Linked DNA regions of Homo sapiens: all the other regions are linked to region 1. The links come from fine-mapping of genetic effects on plasma protein levels. A gene starts in region 1. Each other region holds a variant in brackets. All regions are shown on one strand. Distances are from middle to middle.

Region 1 (2,500 bases):
GAGGCTTAAATTGGCTACGTATCTTACAGAGGAGCTTTACACATGGCAATATTAAAGAATCAGTATCAATCCAGTCCCTCCAGCATCCACTCTAAAGAGAATTTAGTTATCAGCTGGGCGCAGTTGCTCACACCTGTAATCCCAGCACTTTGGGAGGCTGAGGCGGGTGGATCACGAGGTCAGGAGATAGAGACCAACCTGGCTAACACGGTGAAACCCCGTCTCTACTAAAAATACAAAAAATTAGCCGGGTGTGGTGGCGGGCGCCTGTGGTCCCAGCTACTCGGGAAGCTGAAGCAGGAGAATGGAGTGAACCCAGGAGGCGGAGCTTGCAGTGAGCCGAGATCGCACCACTGCACTTCAGCCTGGCGACAGAGCGAGACTCTGTCTCAAAAAAAAAAAAAAAGAATTTAATTATTCTTCTTCTTATTATTATTATTGTTGACTGAGTTTTGCTCTTGTTGCCCAGACTGGAGTGCAATGGGGGGACCTCGGCTCACTGCAACCTCTGCCTCCCAGGTTCAAGCAATTCTCCTGCCTCAGCCTCCCGAGTGGCTGGGATTACAGGCGCCTGCCATCACGCCCGGCTAATTTTTGTGTTTTTAGTAAAGACAGGGTTTCACTATGTTGCCCAGGCTGGGCTCGAATTCCTGACCTCAACTGATTCGCCCACCTCGGCCATGATGCCCAGCTAATTTTTGTATTTTTCATAAAGACGGGGTTTCACCATGTTGGCCAGACTGGTCTCGAACTCCTGACCTCAGGTGATCCACCTGCCTTGGCCTCCCAAAGTGCTGAGATTACAGATGTGAGCAAGCACGCCCGGCCTACTTATCATTATTGATCCCTGACATATACGAAGGGGTTGGATATATTAATTATTTTTTCAAAAGCAAAAAGTACTTACTCCGTCCTGCAATAGCAACATGGCAGAGAAAACTCGAGAACAAGATGAGCACTGGAGAAATCATTGTGGATGAGTCACACTGGCACTACCAAAGTGGTTTTCGTCTGCTAAAAAGACAGAGCCAAATATGAAAGCGCTTAAACATTAACCATTTTCTGGTGTACTTTTATCTTTGTAAATAGAAGATAAAGTATCATGATTTGAATGGAACTCTGAGACCCACATTCTTTAATCATTTACTTTCCACTTATGTGGCTCTGTTATGAAATCTTTGGGAGATGGTTTCTGTCTTCATAACGTTTTTGTTAATGGCACAAAACAGTTCATTATTGCTTTTGACAGAAACTTGTTGTTTCCGGGGTTGCCTGGACTTCTCATTCTCCATCTTTTGTTTTGTGTATGTTGTAGATGGAACACCAAAAGATCGAAGCTCCTGTTTCACTCACAGCCTTGGCATATAAACTTTGGACAAACACCTACTCTCTGTTCTCAGTCTCCACCTCTCTAAAATGATGTTCCAGTTTTCAGATGTATAATTACAAAGAATGTCTTCCAGGAGGCACTTACAACTTTAATTCCCTACAAACTGAGCTCAACATCCTCTCTTGCAAGCTCCTATAGCTCCAGTTAGGACCTTAGAGCTATCCTTGAATTCTCTATCTTCTCTTACGTCAGATCAATACAAAGTCCTCCTCATCCATTCTTAATATGTCTTGGATCTGTCTAGACAGGTTTCTAGATCTGTTTCAGGAATTTGAAAATTGATTTGAAATTAACAACTTGGGACTCGAAGAAGAAAAAAAAACTTGAGTAGGATAAGATAATGGGCCAGTGCTGATGTTGTTGCTTGAGAGGGTTCGGAAGGGGGGTTGTCTTTGATTCCCTAGTTCTCTTCTACATCATTTGCTCTAAAAAAAAAAAAAAGGATATATAAATGGACAATAGCCAGGCCATATGTGAAAACAGAACTCTGACCCACACATCTGTAGCAACAGGTCTAGAAAGCCAAACCTACAACCTCTATAGCAGTTGGCCCAACTTAAGGCCAACCAGAGAAATCCAAACATATTTCTCTAACCAATCACATGGACACCTCACTTCTAGTTAGTTTCCTTCCATCCTCCCCATACCAACAATCCGTTGGAGCACACCTGAAGCCTTTCCTTTTTTCTATTATAAAGCTTTCCCACTCCTCTGTCTGACTTTGACTTTGAGTCTCTGCCAAACACAACTGTTAATGGCTGCCTCCCTTCCTATAGCAAGCTCTGAATAAATAACCTCCGCTTGCTCTCATTTGGGTGATCTTGGTTTATATCCAGAGGTCTAAAATTCCCTGAGACACATCAGCTTGAGAAATCTCCATCTGTCAGGCAGATGATTCTTAAATTACGATCCTAATGAACATTGTGTTCCATGATAAGAAGAGTGTGCTGCCACTAATGTGAAATAACAGTGGTCCTTCCCTATTTGTCCTTCTAAGGGGAAGGAGATTCTTGTTCTCTGGATAATTCCCAGGTTCCGCTTTATTGTGGAGAATCTCCTTGATGAATGAAGAAGAAAGAAAACTAATGAAGTCAGGAGGAGCCAAGTCGT
Region 2 (2,849 bases), 55 kb after region 1:
AGAAGGCATTCAAAGGTGGGTCAGAAAATAATGAAATTACAGAGATTTATTGCAAAGAGAAAAGCACACACTCAAGAAAGAGGAGTGCAAACAAACACAAGGAGAGTCACATGAGAAAATACGTTTTACTGATTCTTACTCCTGCTGGCCCTGGCTTTCTCCTTCCTTGTCTTCCTTTTTTTCTCCCCTTGTGATCCTTTCTCTCTTCCATCCCCAATATATATGTCTTAGATAGGGAACTTAGATTTATTGAGCATCTACTATGTGCCAGGTACTGGGCTTTGGGCCTCATGGACTCCATCTCACTTAGTTCTTCCAGCAGCTTTTGGAGGGATGTTCATTATTATTCCCACTTTACAGAAGAGGAAATGGAGGTTCAGGGAGGTTAAATGATCCAGGTCACACAGTCAAATGGATTGGCGCTGGGAACTACATCTAGATCTGTTTGACTCTAAAACACTATTCTCTCCTTTATTTTTTGAGGGTCCATGAAGCACTATCAAGGAGCTACAGAATGTCAATTACGTTCCTCTTTGGAGTCTTTGTTGCCCAGGCTAGAATGAAGTGATGCAATCTCGGCTCACTGCAACCTCCCACCTTCCAGGTTCAAGCAATTCTCCTGCTTCAGTCTCCCAAGCAGCTGGGACTGCAGGTGCCTGCCACCACACGTGGCTAATTTTTGTATTTTTAATAGAGATGGGGTTTCACCATGTTGGCCCCGCTGGTCTCAAAATCCTGACCTCAAGTGATCCACCCGCCTCAGCCTCCCAAAGTGCTGGGATTACAGGAGAGAGTCACCACACCCGGCCCTCAATTGCATCCTTGAGTACAAATTCACATAACACACATGGAATTCCTGTTTGCTTATGAATCTTCCTATCAGGTGCCACTGATCTGCTAGTAGAAATCCTCCCAAGGAAAAGCTTGAAGAATGCAAGTGTTTTGCTGTCTGTCTAGGTTTTTTGTTAGCCTAAGGAGACACACAAGACTCCAGCTGCTCAGCCAGCCCCTCCGGGAGCCTCAGCCTGTGAGCAAAGTGATGGTGAGCAGGAGGCAGAGACCACAGGCTTCTGTTTACAGAATCTCTCAGACAATGGACAAAAGAGTAGCAACTTTCATAACAACTTGACATTGATAGAGTTTCCAATATAGCTGCACATTTTCTACTGTTATTGCTCCAATCTTCTTCATGAAAAGTAAAAGGGGGCCGGG[C/T]GCGGCGGCTCACACCTGTAATCCCAGCACTTTGGGAGGCCGAGGCAGGCGGATCACCTGGGGTCAGGAGTTCAAGACCAGACTGACCAACATGGAGAAACCCCATCTCTACCAAAAATACAAAATTAGCTGGGTGTGGTGATATATGCCTGTAATCCCAGCTACTCAGGAGGCTGAGGCAGGAGAATCACTTGAACCGGGGAGGCAGAGTTTGCCGTGAGCCAAGATCGCGCCATTGCACTCCAGCCTGGGCAACAAGAGTGAAACTCTGTCTCAAAAGAAGAAGAAGAAAAAAAAAAAGTAAAAGAGGGCAGGGCATGGTGGCTCACACCTGTAATTTTGGGAGGCAGAGGCAGGAAGATCACCCAAGCCCAGGAGTTCGAGACCAGCCTGGGCAACATAGTGAGACCTCATCTCTACAAAATAATACAAAAATAAGATGGATGTGGTGGTGCACACCTGTAGTCCCAGATACTTGGGAGGCTGAGATGGGAGATCATCTGAGCCCTCAGTGGTTGAGACTATAGTGAGCTGTGATCACACCACTACATCCCAGCCTGGGTGACAGAATGAGACCCTGTCTCAAAAATAAGTAAATAAATAAAAAGTAAAAGAAGGTTTTGGTCCTCACTTGGATAATCAGCAGTAATAAAAACATCTGGAATGAATCCACTCAGAGCCTTTCCAATAACCAGTCTCTCTCTCTCTCTCTCTCTCTCTCTCTCTCTCTCTGTCTCTCTCTTTAGCACAGGTTAAATTTCTGATTGTTCCTTGAGGCTTTTTTTGGTGGAAATCTATGTTAAAGCATATTTTATGTGGCAGAGGAGGCCAAAAGTGATGGCTGCATGCTTACTTATTATTTTTCCATGAAATAGCATTTTAGGGATCCAAATACAACCTATTTGATCCACAGACATGTACTGATCACTTCCAAGGCTGCGTAAACATTTAAAGACGTTCTTTGATGTGGTTAGACAAAGATGCCCTAAGCTATGGGTGCCAGTTAACTAGTTAATGCCAAATGTCTGGAGGAGCCAATTTGTTGGTCATTTTTAAAAAAGATCTGTGATGAGCAGTAAGAGGCTATCTGAAGCATTTTGTCTTTCATTTTTTAAAAACCTGGATCAAGATACCATGTGCAATATGAATATTTTTCTTTCAAAGGCAAGTATTATACAGAAGTTATCTCTATGGGGGCTGGGCATGGTGGTTCACGCCTGTAATCCCAGCACTTTAGGAGGCTGAGGCAGGTGGATCACCTGAGGTCAGGAGTTCGAGACCAGCCTGACCAACATGGTGAAACCCTGTCTCTACTAAAAATACAAAAATTAGCTGGGCATGGTGGTGGGCACCTGTAATCCCTGCTACTTGGGAGGCTGAGGCAAGAGGATTGCTTGAACCCAAGAGGCAGAGGTTGCAGTGAGCCAAGATAGTGCCATTGCACTCCAGCCTGGATGACAAGAGCGAAACTCCATCTCAAAAAAAAAAAAAAAAAAATAGAAGTTATCTCTGTGGGATTGGAGAAGTGGGAGCACTAGGGAGAGAAACATTTCTCTAATATTTGTGTTTGTATTTTATTTTATTTTTAACATGCCCTTGAGTTTTCTTTTAAAAGTTTAAAACTAGTTCAAATGCAA
Region 3 (2,849 bases), 18 kb after region 1:
AGTATAAGAACAAAACTACAAATTTTCAGATGTTACGCAACTGAGAGAACGCAGAGAGAGTTGATCTCAAAAACCTTACCACTTCAGCCGGAAACCACAGGATACATTTCACAAGATCACTGCAAATCTCAGCATGCAGGTGAAGTGGAGGAGGAAGCAGCATGAGCTTGAAGAAGTTCCAGATGTTTCCATCAACCACAAGTTTAGCCTGACCTGCTAGTGACACAGCTGAAGTGTAATTGAATTAGGCTGTGTTCAGACACAGAAAACTCCAGTCTTGAACACAATTACTGCTTTGCACTGTGTTGGTCAGACCAAAGTTTGGCAGTTCTTCAGGAGCATACTGAAAAGCCAGACCTCTCTGAAGGACAATGAAAACTCTGAAAGTCATGTAACAGGATAATAAGTCAAAGTATCATGAAAGCCTACCCTGGAGAAGACTAAGAAAGTCTCCAAATATTTCAAAAACCATTATGTGGAAGGAGTTTTAAACTTGTTTTCAGTGGATTCTGAGCACAGACTTTGGGTTAATGGGTACCAGTTTTAGAGAAGAAAGAAAGATTCAATGTGTGAAAAAATGGATTTTTTTCTTTTTCTTTTTTTTTTCGAGACAGGGTCTCACTTTGTCCTCCAGGCTGGAGTACAGTGGCACAATCTCAGTTCACTGCAGCCTCGACTTCTGGGGTTCAAACGATCCTCCTGCCTCAGCCCCCACCCCAAGTAGTTGGGACTATAGGTGCTTGCCACCACGCCTGGCTAATTTTTGTATTTTTTTGTAAAGACGGATTTCACCATGTTGCCCAGGCTGATCTTGAACTTCTGAGCTCAAGTAATCTGCCTGTCTCGGCCTTCCAAAGTGCTGGGATTACAGGTGTGAGCCACGGCGCCTGCCCTAATGTTTAATAATTAAAGACTTTCAGCAATGAAGTGGGTTTCTTCAAAAAGTGATGTGCATCCTGTCAATCATAACATCAAGTTCTAGGCCCTGGAAGTTCAACTGAGTGATCATCCTAAAATAACATATTGGGTCACTCTTCTGCTTAGATGCTCCATGGCTTCACATTAAAATTAGAACAAAGGCCAGGCATGGTGGCCCACGCCTGTAATCCCAACACTTTGGGAGGCCAAGGCAGGCAGATCACGAAGTCAGGAGATCGAGACCATCCTGGCTAACATGGTGAAACCCCGTCTCTACTAAAAAAAATACAAAAAATTAGCTGTGCGTGGTGGTAAGCGCCTGTAGTCCCAGCTGCTCAGGAGGCTGAGGCAAGAGAATGGTGTGAACCTGGGAGGCGGAGCTTGCAGTGAGCCGAGATCACGCCATTGCACCCCAGCCTGGG[C/T]GACAGAGTGAGACTCTGTCTCCAAAAAAAAAAAAAAAAAAAAATTAGAACAAAATGCAAACTCCCCATCCTGGTCTACTAGGCCCTGTGTGATCTGGCTCTGCTGACCTGTATCAGCAGCTTTCTCCCTTTTCCTACTTTTCATCCAAGTATTCATTTACTCCAGGACTGTTCTTCAAGGTCAGCCATGTGCTGGCACAGTTGTGAACACAGCAGGCAAAATCTCTACCCTGAAGTTGCTGACATCATAGTGGGAGAAGAAAGACAAAAATAAATAAATAATAAACAAATAGATGAAGGGTTAAGGTAAGTGCTATGTAGAAAAATGAGCAGGGCAGGCCAGGCGCGATGGCTCACACCTGTCATCCTAGCACTTTAGGAGGCTGAGGCTGAGGCTGATGGACCACTTGAGCTCAGGAGTTCAAGACTAGCCTGGGCAACATGGCAAAACCCCGTCTCTATAAAAAATACAAAAATTAGCTGGGTGTGGTGGCAGGTCACGGTTCTCCTGTCCAGCTCACTGCCCCTGGACCACTCCATGTAGAAGTCCTCAATAAACCCTATGTCTCGCTCACTGGCTCTGGGTCTCTTTTTCAGCCTCTCAGACATGGTGCCATCCTTATTATGGCCAATAAATGTCCCACACAACACATGCCTCTCAAGGGCTGACTCTGTCTTTACTGGCTGCATCCCCAGCACGTAGACCAGTGCCTGACACAGTCAGTGCTCCAGAAATAGCTATTAACTGACTGATAAGGGAAGCAATGAGGGAAGTAATGTCGTTGCTCAGAGCCATTTCCCTGGCAACACTTGCCAACTGGAAGTTCACTTCCGCTAATAAAATTCTCTTTGGAAAATACAGATACAGCCTGGGCAACATGGCAAACCTCCATCTCCACGAAAAAACTGCAAAAGAAAAAAATTAGCCAGGCATGATGGCATGCACCTGTGGTCCCAACTAACCAGGAGGCTGAGGTGAGAGAATGGCATGATCCCAGTTCAAGGATGCAGTGAGCTGTGATAGTGCCACCATACTCCAGCCTGGGTGACAGAGCAAGACCCTACCTTAAAAAAAAAAAAGGCCAGGTGTAGTGGCTCATGCCTGTAATCCCAGCACTTTGGGAGGCTGAGGCAGGTGGATCACAAGATCAAGAGTCCAAGACCAGCCTGGCCAAGATGGTAAAACCCCATCTCTACTAAAAATACAAAAATTAGCTGGGTGTGGTGGTGGACGCCGGTAATCCCAGCTACTCGGGAGGCTGAGGGAGGCTGAGGCAGGAGAATCAGCTTGAAACCGGGAGGCAGAGGTTGCAGTGAGCAGAGATCATGCCACTGCACTCCAGCCTGGGCAAAAGAGTAAGACTCCGTCTCAAAAAAAAAAAAAGAAAGAAAGAAAAAAAGAAAATACAAATATAAATATGTCCTGGAAAAGTTAAGCCTCATTCATATTGTAATATGAATGAACTAATTTAATCAGATGACCTACATATAGCAGATAGAGTAGCATTC

Which allele goes with the higher level. Alleles are on the strand shown, and positions count from the first base shown. The strength of an association depends on the size of the effect and on how common the allele is.
In carriers of allele T in region 2, the plasma level of the protein whose gene starts at base 1,007 in region 1 tends to be higher than with C alone (weak association).
For the plasma level of the protein whose gene starts at base 1,007 in region 1, C is the high allele of the variant in region 3 and T is the other (strong association).

Evidence for each region. A credible set is the group of variants that fine-mapping cannot tell apart. PIP is the chance, under the fine-mapping model, that this variant and not a neighbour inherited with it causes the effect. The UK Biobank Pharma Proteomics Project read protein levels with antibody pairs (Olink). The fine-mapping took linkage between variants from a reference panel, not from the people measured, so its PIPs are less certain.
Region 2: its variant is the best candidate, but not a certain one, in a credible set for the plasma level of the APOH protein (UK Biobank, PIP 0.83).
Region 3: its variant is the best candidate, but not a certain one, in a credible set for the plasma level of the APOH protein (UK Biobank, PIP 0.89).

What each region holds. Positions count from the first base shown.
Region 1 is chr17:66,228,409-66,230,908 of GRCh38, forward strand. APOH (apolipoprotein H) reads right to left here and starts at 1,007. Exons shown (of 8, transcript NM_000042.3): 1 at 908-1,007. The coding sequence starts at 971.
Region 2 is chr17:66,283,173-66,286,021 of GRCh38, forward strand. No RefSeq gene overlaps it. Among named protein-coding and RNA genes, the nearest start is that of PRKCA, 18 kb to the right of the region's middle. The variant C/T (reference allele first, on the strand shown) is at 1,213.
Region 3 is chr17:66,246,422-66,249,270 of GRCh38, forward strand. No RefSeq gene overlaps it. Among named protein-coding and RNA genes, the nearest start is that of APOH, 18 kb to the left of the region's middle. The variant C/T (reference allele first, on the strand shown) is at 1,341.